Homo sapiens: one gene and its partner. Each later gene encodes a partner of the first gene's protein in a complex. Each region holds a gene or a part of one and is shown on either strand. Other genes may lie near its edges. The genes, in order: CCNC and MED4.

What was found.
Region 2: CCNC (region 1) and MED4 share a complex: the UniProt entries of both Homo sapiens proteins name them as parts of the mediator complex.

Annotation. Positions count from the first base shown.
Region 1 is NC_000006.12:99,551,450-99,558,760, reverse strand, and holds part of CCNC (cyclin-C), read left to right. Parts: intron 1-212; coding exon 213-264; intron 265-4,959; exon of another isoform or gene 4,960-6,865; coding exon 6,866-6,921; exon of another isoform or gene 6,922-7,311. UniProt on the Homo sapiens protein: Component of the Mediator complex, a coactivator involved in regulated gene transcription of nearly all RNA polymerase II-dependent genes.
Region 2 is NC_000013.11:48,075,224-48,078,415, reverse strand, and holds the end of MED4 (mediator of RNA polymerase II transcription subunit 4), read left to right. Parts: intron 1-862; exon of another isoform or gene 863-974; intron 975-1,064; exon of another isoform or gene 1,065-1,104; coding exon 1,105-1,277; 3' UTR 1,278-2,692; downstream 2,693-3,192. UniProt on the Homo sapiens protein: Component of the Mediator complex, a coactivator involved in the regulated transcription of nearly all RNA polymerase II-dependent genes.

The DNA of each region.
Region 1 (7,311 bases):
TGCAAAATATTCCTAAATCAGAAAAATCTCTGATCCTAAGCATGTCAGATAAGGGGTAATCAGCCTGTACATTTAGGAGTGTAAGTACTTCACACCTCAAGTAGTTAGAAGGTGAACAGATTGTAAACAGGAGCAAGGAAATCCTGTTTTGAATAGAGTTCAGATACCCTTAGATTCATTGGGTTAACATGTACCTGCTTTTCTTTCTTTAGGAATTTGGAGTAGTTTCAAATACAAGATTGATTGCTGCTGCTACTTCTGTATGTAAGTGCAAAAAGTATATCTGCTTTAAGGATGTAATTCTAAAGAAAGCTCCAGAGTACATAGATTTTTTTTTTTTTAGTTTATGAGACATATGAGATTGGTTGGCTTTATTAAATTTCCTGAGGATAACTTTATATCTAGTGTATCTGGCAAAAAAATCAAGCTAAAAGGTTTTTTTTTAAAAAGATATAAAGATATTACTTTTAATGTTAAAATGGATAGTAATTATCAATCCAAAAACATCAACTCAGTGGCTTTTAATCTTGTAAGAGTAAAGAAAAAATTCTGTTTCCGAATTTTATTGTATTTTATTGTTTTCTAATGACTATTATGTCATTCTTATGGGTAGATATTAATATCTATGTGCAAACCCGTTCCTGTGTTGTTGGGTTGTTATGAGGACCAAATGAGTTAATATAAGCTTTTAGAACAGTGCCTTGCTTAGTATGTTACTTTGCTGAGGCTGCCATAACAAAATGCCACAGAACAGGTGGCTTAAACAACAGAAGCGTATTTTCTCACAGTTTTAGAGCATGGAAATCCAAGATCAAGGTGTCTGGCTATTCTTACATGGACCTTTCTGTGAGCACACACACTCCTGGTTTGCTGTCTTCTTCATGTGAGGACAATAGTCTTACAGAATTAGGCCCCACTCTTATGTCCTCATTTAATCTTTTTTTTTTCTTTCTTTTTTTTTTTTTTTTTTTTGAGACAGAGTCTCGCTCTGTCGCCCAGGCTGGAGTGCTCACTTCAACTTCCGCCTCCTGGGTTCAAGTGATTCTCCTGCCTCAGCCTCCTGAGTACCTGGGACTACAGGCATGTGCCACCATGCCCAGCTCATTTTTGTATTTTTTAGTAGAGACGGGGTTTCACCATGTTGGCCAGACTAGTCTCAAACTCCTGATCTCGTGATCCGCTAGCCTCGGCCTCCCAACGTGCTGGGATTATAGGTGTGAGCCACCATGTCTGGCCTGTCCTCATTTAATCTTATCCCTTTAAAGACCCTCTCTCCAAATACAGTCACATTCTGAGGTACTAGGAGTTAGGGCTTCAACATACGAATTTTGGAGGGGGACATATATTGGTCCACAATACTTGGTAAACTTTAGGGGCTATCATCATCATCATCATCTTCAATGACAACAACATCATTATCACTGGAAAACACTGTGCCAATGCAGTGGCATTGGTACCAAGGTAAAATACAAGGAATTTAAGGACAAAAAAAGAAGACAGAAACATAAAAATATTAATACAGAAGGAAATAAATAGTATAAGAGAGTTACAGAGAATGCTGTGAATGTTTTGGGTGGGAAAAGATTGTTTCATGAATCCAGAAAGGATTAAGTAGAACTTGGTGAAGGAAGTTGAACTGGGGAAATGCAAGAGATAGACAGTCTAAGAACACTGAATAGTTTAGTCAAATAGGGAAAGCTCATGAGTTAGATTAACTGAATGGTGAGTAAGGAAATAGTGGGGAAAACTCCTTACCTAATTTCAGCTAATAGAGGGCCTTCGATGCTAAATGAAGGAATCTGCACTTTGTTCTATTGACAGTAATGAAAGTTAGTTATTTGAGATGGAGTCTCGCTCAGCCGCCCAGGCTGGAGTGCAGTGGCACGATCTTGGCTCACTGCAACCTCTGCCTCCCAGGTTCAAGCGATTCTCCTGCCTCATCCTCCCTGGTAGCTGGGATTACAGGTGTGTGCCACCACGCCGGGCTAATTTTTGTATTTTTAGTAGAGATGGGGTTTCAACATTTTGGCCAGGCTGGTTTTAAACTCCTCACCTCAGGCCTCCCAAAGTGCTGAGATTACAGGCGTGAGCCACTGCACCTGGCCAGTTTTATTTATTTTTACACATGAGGGTAATGCCAGCATTGTGCATTAGGAAGGTAAATCTGACCCACCTCAGCCTCCCAAAGTGCTGAGATTACAGGCGTGAGCCACTGTGCCTGGCCAGTTTTATTTATTTTCACACATGAGGGTAATGCTAGCATTGTGCATTAGGAAGGTAAATCTGACAGAATTATGTAAGATGAATTGGAGGAGAGGGCAGGTAGAATTAGACAAATTTTGAAGTTATTTACATCCCACAACATGGATGAACCTTGAGGACATTATGGTAAGTGAAATAAGCCAGTAACAAAGACAAATATTGTGTGATTACACTTACATGGAATACTTAGTCAAATTAATAAAGATAGAAAGTAGAATGGTAGGGCTGGAGGAAGGGTGGTATAGGGAGTGATTAATGGATACAGAGTTTCAGTTTTGCAAAAATTTTGTATATCTTAACACAATTTAAAAACAAAAACCTTCTGAAATACAGTAAAACTGCAAACTGTATTGAGTGCTGTCACTTACCACAGGGTGCTATGAGAAATAAAACCTAACAAGTTTAAAGTGGAAAAAATAATTTTTAAGTTGCTGAAGTCATCCCAGTGAACACTAATGAAGGCTTAAACGAATATTGGCAGCCAGCAAGAAGAACAAACAAGCCAGATTTGAGCGATAGAGTCAGCAGTTCTTATAAAAAGAAGGGATTTAAGAAGAGTCAGAAATGTGTTTTGAGGTTTTTTTGCCTGGGGGTTGGGGAGCTGAAGCTGGTACTGAAAAAGAGAATAAGTGAGTTCTGAAAAGAATTAAATTTAATCTTTGACATTCTAAGTATAAATATGTTAGTAGAACATCCTCTTAAAAATGTGAGGCCAGCAGTAGAAATTTGGAATTTGATAACATTTAAGAGTTGCACAGGCCAGGTATGGTGGTTCCTGCTTATAATCCGAACACTTTGGGAGGCTGGAGCAGGAGGATTGCTTTAGAACAGGAGTTCAAGACCAGCCTGGACAACATAGCAAGATTCCAGCTCTGCAAAAAATTAAAGAAAAACTAACTGGGCATGGTGGCACACACCTGTAGTCCTAGCTACTCAACTAGGCTGAAGTGGGAGGGTTGCCTAAGCCCAGGAGTTCAAGGCTGCAGTAAACTGTGATTATGCCACTGCACTCCAGCCTGGGCAATGGAGTAAGACTCTGTCCCTAAAAATTAAAAAAAAAAAGAGTTCCACAATGTCTTATGCTGCATAGAAAAAGATGTGAACCAAAGAAAAAAACATCTTTGAGAGAGAACATAGTGTCATTAACAATGTGGGGGTGGAGGTAGAAGCCAGATTGCAAGGAATTAAGAAGCAAGTAGGTGCTGAGAAAGGAATAGTCTAACTATATTAAAAATATATGAAACAACTTCAGTGAAGGGAATTGGGGGAAAGGTGTTGACATAAGTAGCTTTGGAAATGATTAAGAGTGTAAGAGTAAAGGCAAAAGGAACTACACATAAGCACTGTACTCTAGTTGATAAAGTTATTACCCATGGGTGTACAAGTTAACAATTCTGATAATGCTATACATGTATATGGGAATTAAACAATTACGTAAATCAATAGCAAATGTTTGAGAGCCGGGTTTCTCATTGTTGGAGCGGGAATTTACAGATAAGCAAAGGGCTGGAAACAGCATGAACTCGTGTACCTTAATACAATATAGATGGTTAGTTACATATAGAAATATTTATAGATAAGTGTATATACATGGGTTAGTGTGTGTATTTCTTGGCTTTCTCAGCTGAAAGGGTCTATAAGCAATGACATCCCAGTAGCAATGAGCTCACCTAGTACCCATATCTTGGTTTCTAATATCATTCTCCAATAAAAGGTACCAGGGCTCCTTGGAGAAATGGTTGATTCTAGGACTGGGGCAAGAAATACACAAGATGGACCTGGACCATCTCTTAATGCCAGTAATAAAGAAGTATTCAAAACAAACAAGAAAAACAAAAACGTCTATTGATGAGGATATGTCAAAAGGATATAGGAGCTAACTAAGAGAGCTCCCACTGACCAAAGCTGAAAGAATTTGAGCATCAAAATTTTAAAAATAGCATTGGATAATAACTCAAAGTATAAACTAAATATCCATGAGTCCATACTGATATAAATAAATGAGGGAGAAGAGACATGTCTTCCATGCTGAAGAATTCCAAATAATATATGTAACTATTCTGCCCTCAAGTAGAGGGAGCATAACTCCCCACTCCTAAGGTGCTGGCTATACATGTTAACTTCCTGCTAGTGTGTACATATGGAAAGGGAGGAAAAAGGTAACTTTACAGTGGGGAAACCTGAGAAATACTGCCTTAGCCAGGCGATCAAGGTCAGTAGCAACAGTGATAAATCACATTAATATCATGTATCATTGATGTGATATGATGAAGATGGTACTTTATCTCGGTGGTCTTCCTGTCAAAAACCCATTTTCTCTAGTCTAATGAGAAAAACATCAGACAAATTCCAGTAGAGGGGCATTTGACAAAATACTTGACTGGTACTCCTAAAAACTGTCAAAGTCATCAAAAACAAGGAAAGGCTAGAAAACTGTCACAGCCAAACAGTCTAAGGAAACATGACAAATAAATATAATGTGGTATCCTAGATAAGACCCTAGGATAGAAAAAGGACATTGGTACAAACTAAGGAGATCTGAAAAAAGTACAGTTTAGTTAATAATAACATTTCAATATTGGGTCAGTAATTGTAACAAATGCGCCATACTAATGTAAGATGTTAATAGTAGGGGAAGCTGGGTGAAGGCATGTCTTAGTCCACTTGGGCTAATATAAGAAAGTACCATAGACTGGGTGGCTTTCACAACAGACATTTATTTCTCACAGTTCTGGAGGCTGGGAAGTCAATAACGGTGGGTATAAGAGAACTGTGCATGATCTCAGTGTTTGAGTCTACAAAAATAAAAGGCAGAGGAATATAATTAGGTAGAGTTTGTTTTGCTTTTTTCAAGGGAAATTTGAGCATATTAGTATGTGATGGAAGATTTACTGAAGGAGGAAGGTTAAAGATGAAAAAAATAGCAGGAGTTATCAATTGAATAGATGATAATAAGTGTATAAGTGGTAAGACAAACAATAGAGAGGAGGGATGTATTTTTCTCCAAGTTGGAGGAAAAGGATTAAAAGACAGAAAAAAATGCAGAGCAGTTTTAGCATGGAGTAACAGACATGTGACAGTATCAGGTAAATATATTCTCAATAGAGGTGTTAGGTGTCAAGGTCCAGGGGATGGGGATGTAGATTTGTTTTATATACAGAGATAATTTTACTTTGTTGATTGTCTACCATTATATAAGAACCTGTTGTGCTGGTATACTTTACATCACAAGGATTTGTAAAACTCAGAAACCTTAATAGGTACGTCTTAAATTTAAATAAAGGAGAGAAGAAAGGAAAGATTATAAATTTACTAATGTCAAGTTTAAATTATTCTAGGTTTCAAATCCTGGCAGATATTACACATCTAAATTAGCTGTAGGGCACTGAATTTGCAAAACAAATCTTTTTGAAAACATAGTGCATAGAAGAAATGGAATTTCTTTCTTTTTTTTTTTTTGAGATGGAGTCTCACTGTCACCCAGACTGGAGTGCAGTGGTGTGTTCTCAGCTCACTGCACCCTCTGCCTCCCGGGTTCAAGGGATTCTCCTGCCTCGGCCTCCCGAGTAGCCGGGACTACAGGTGCATGCCACTACACTCGCCTAATTTTTGTATTTTTAGTAGAGATGGGGTTTCACCATGTTGTCCAGGAGGTCTCGAACTCCTGACCTCAGGTGATCCACCCACCTTGGCCTCCCAAAGTGCTGGGATTACAGGCATGAGCCACTGTGCCTGGCCAGAAATGGAATTTCTTTTAATTTCAGTGAAATCACTTGGGCTTTGTACAAATGGAAGCTGACACTAAACATTTTTTAGGACCTGTCAGTAGTTACTTGGTTGAATTAAATGTGTCATAATGGCTTGAATACAGTTTCTCAAATAGTACTTATGTGTATATGCTCACACCATTTTAAGGAGATGGGGGATTGATGGTTAACATTTTTTTTTCATTTGTACTTTATTTAGTGACTAACCAATAAAGTAATAGATAATAGAGTACTAACTTTATGTGTTACTACTACTACTTTATGAGTAACTCGAGACCTTTGCATATATATTAATGCTTTTATTAAAATATATATTTTGATAAATACCTGGTCATTGTAAAAAGTTTAGAAAGTGCAGATTAGTAAAAAGTTCTTAAATCTCACAAATAACCACTGTTAACATTTTTTTGGTGTACTATCCTCCCAATATTTTATATGTATATTTTTTACCAATTGTATATATTGTAAACACATATGTAACCCCTGTGTTCCTTCTAAGCTCAGTCACTGGAAAACAGAAGAATACCATTCTGTAGCTGAAAAGATTTTAGAAATGATAAAAGCCAGTGATTTTTTTTTCCTGATCTTTTTCTTTTTTAAACATCAGAATCCTTTCTTAAGGTAGTAAATATAAAATTGAAGCTGTGTAGAGTGTCCTGCCCCCCAGTCTTTCCCCTTCCCTGAAAGTAAATAAAAATCTGCGTCCGTAAGTGTTGCCAAGAATTCCTACTGAAAATAATTTTGCTCTACCCTCTAATATTCTGCTCTGTTAAAGGAATTTTGAGTTAATTTATTTCCCATTTTCTCAGTTTAAATTTTTTTTTTATTTTCTGCAGTAAAAACTAGATTTTCATATGCCTTTCCAAAGGAATTTCCTTATAGGATGAATCATGTAAGTATATGATATAAAATGGAACAATTATCAAAGCTATATATAAACTAGCTCTATTTTATATTAGACTAAATTTAATAGTTTCCTAGAAATGGCAGTTTCAAATATTACATAAATACAGACATTATTCTAAATTAAAGCTAAATAGCTTTTACCATTTAAAAAAAATACTTCATAGTGGCGATTATCAACCCTGGCTGCTCATTAAATCACCTTGGGAACTTGTAAATAATACTGATGTTGGATCCTTTCCAGAACAACAAAATCAGAATTTTCAGCCTTGGGGCTCCCAACATTGGTACTGTGTAAAAGGTCCCAGGTGATACTACTATTTAGCTGGGATTAAAAACTAATGGAACAATATGAAATATAAGGTGAATTTCTATTGAC
Region 2 (3,192 bases), on another chromosome or scaffold:
ACCAACCAGGCATCACAGCAGTAAAGGAGACAAAACCACCTGATCCAGGAAGTGAAACTTGTTTGCTAGTGGAGTCCCACCTGTGCCCTCTACTGACAAAACTTAATTGTGGCAGCTGGCAAAGGAGAAATGGTTTCAGGGGCCAGAGAGAAGGGTAGATTTGAGGCTAACTGGCATACCTTTCTAGTTAATACCATAACTCTTTCTTTTGACCCTTTAAAAATCTGCCTTCTTTATTTGAGTCTTGAACTATACCTGTTTATGTGCTCTGTCCCTTTGCTTCAGAAATACAGACTTTAAATGTAACTTGGGCCCTTTTTTAAGGTATTTCATATGCATACATTGCTAATCAACCTCTCTTTGATGAGAGTCACTTACAATAGCAGTTCCTCTATCAAGAAATCATTCAAATCTATTATAATACTAAAGTACCTATTACTTGTTTATAATATGTAGAATAATCTACATAACCTAGTATACATAAGTATGTATTATATATGCATATAATAGATACATAGATACAGGAAAAATTTGTAATTACAAATGTCTTACAAAAGAAAAATTATGTCAACTGACTAAATAGTTTCTTACAGAGTAGTATGATTTTTTTAAAAAAGTCCCCAGTTGCTAAAATATCAACTTTTCCTTGATAAATTTGATTTTTATTAATTTGGCTAAATGTGTATTTTTTTCCTAGTCTTAAAAAAATTGGCACAATAGCTTATGCCTGTAATCCCAACACTTTGGGAGGCTGAGGTAGCAGGATAGCTTGAGCCCAGGAGTTGGAGACCAGCCTGGTTAACATAGTGAGACCTCATCTCTACAAAAACTTTAAAAAGTACTCAAGCATGGTGGCACATACCTGTAACCCAGTTACTCAGGAGGCTGAGGCAGGAGGATTGCTTGAGCCTAGGTCAGGGCTTCAGTGATGTATTCGTGCCACTGCACTCAAGCCTGGGTGACAGAATGAGACCCTGTGTCAAAAAAAGAAGAGAAAAAAGTAAAATTAAAAAAAATACTTCAAATTGTTGCATAAAGGGAAAAGTAAGAACTAGATTAATTACAGATAGAGCTGTTCTTATCTATGCTTCTTTTTTTCTCCAGATGTCCTTGCTCCACAGTATCCATGGCAGTCAAATGACATGTCGATGAATATGTTACCACCAAATCATAGTAGTGACTTTTTGTTGGAACCTCCTGGGCATAATAAAGAAAATGAAGATGATGTAGAGATTATGTCAACGGACTCCTCAAGCAGTAGTAGTGAGTCTGATTGAAAAACCTTAAAAGACAATATACAGAATTGAATACTGTAGAATTCTGTTTCTTTAACAGTAGCAGGGAAATGTAAACTACAGGTGACAAAAAATACCCAGGTAAACACTGGCTTTGGTAGAATTGTGCAGTCATTAAAAGTCAAAATTTTTTGACTTTCTTTTTAAAGCCAAAGACCATAGTTTTAGTTTTAAGCCACTAGGTAGATATTTAGGGGAATAGTCAAAATTTACTGTTGAAAAAGCAGTTGCTATGTGCTTTCTTACCCTGTTCTGTTCCAGTTTTGCTGGATTTGTACATAGCCATTCTAGAAATAGAGTTGAGGGAAATTATCCATATACATATCACTAATAGGCTTCTTGGAATTATTTAGAAAAGCATTTTTAAACTGGCAGTGGATGACTGAATAGGCATCATATTTCTTTTTGTGTGTCATTTAAAAGTAACAAAAACTGCCATTTGACAGTAAAGGCTCTTGGCTTCTGTTGGAGGCATGGGAAATTGTCTCAATTTGTACAGTTTGTAATTGTAATTTTTGTAAATAAATTTGTTTGTACATTGTATGCTTTTTTTTTAGTTTAAATATACTGTCAGTGTAGGTAGGAAATTATTTCTGTAAATCCAGTTGCATTTTATAATACTTGAGTGACTAACTGAATTGAAACCTATTACAATTAATAGGGTTCTCAAAGGCCTATTCCTATTAGAAGAAATAATTTTTTTTAATAATTGAAAAAATTTACCACAGCCTTGTCTGATTTTAAGAATAGATTGTGTGAAGATTTAGAATGGAAAGCAACCATTTCTTCCCTTCACCTTCCTCTTCTTACAGTTCCCCAGGAGTCATTTTTAACCACTTTTAATTTCTGTTGGTAACCTCTGTGTTTAGGTAATATGCTTATACAACTATTTCTTGATGTATCAGTTTTAGACAATGTATCTTCTGATTTCAAAGGTAATACAACATTTAATGTGAAACATTTAGTGAATACAGTAAAGGAGAAAATAAAATTGTTAGCATTCTACCCAGAGATAATATCAATTCATATTGTAGTGTAGATTTTTTTAAAGTTCACATACACTTTTTTGTAAAATGAGAATAATGTTTATTTCCTGAGATACTGCTGTATTTTTTAATTGCTAATCTGTATTCTTCAAATGAACTGAGAATTCCATTTTTCCATCATTTTTTCCTTTTGATTATTTTCGATCTCTAGAAAAATTGGAAAATAGGAGATTAATCTTATATTTTCACCATCTAGAATTAAGGACATACAATGTTTGAATGTCTTTCCCTCCAGGGTTATTTTTAGGAATGGACTAACACAATATCTAATTTTAACCTTGCCTTGTCCGTATACTAGGAATATTGATCCATGTGTATACATTCTTGAAAGATTTACTTTAATGGCTAAAATTTTATTGTGGTATGTGCCATAATGTAACTGCCTGTTTTTATCACCAAATCTTTAGGGTAGATTCAAAAGGATTGTGTTTTTCAAATTCTTTAATACTGTATTAGTTTTCAGTTGCTGCCGTAACAAATTACCACAAACTTGGCTCAAAACAACACAAATTTATCTTAGTTTTGTACATCACAAATGTGAAGTGGGTCTCACCTAAAATCAAGGTGTGAGCAGGGCTGCATTCCTTCCTGGAGGCCATAGGGGAGAATCTGTCCCCTGTGTCTTCCAGGTTTTAGAGGCCGCCCTTGGTCCTGCTCCAGGCCCCTGGTTGGTGAGTGTTTCTCATTCTGCATTACTGTGATGCTCTTCTGCCTACCTGTCCCATATTTAAAGGATCCTGTGATCATTCTGAGCCCACTGGATAACCCAGAATAATCTTCTTATTTAAAGTGAGATGATTAGCAACCTTTATTCTGTTTGCAACCTTAATTCTTCCTTGCCATGTAACAAA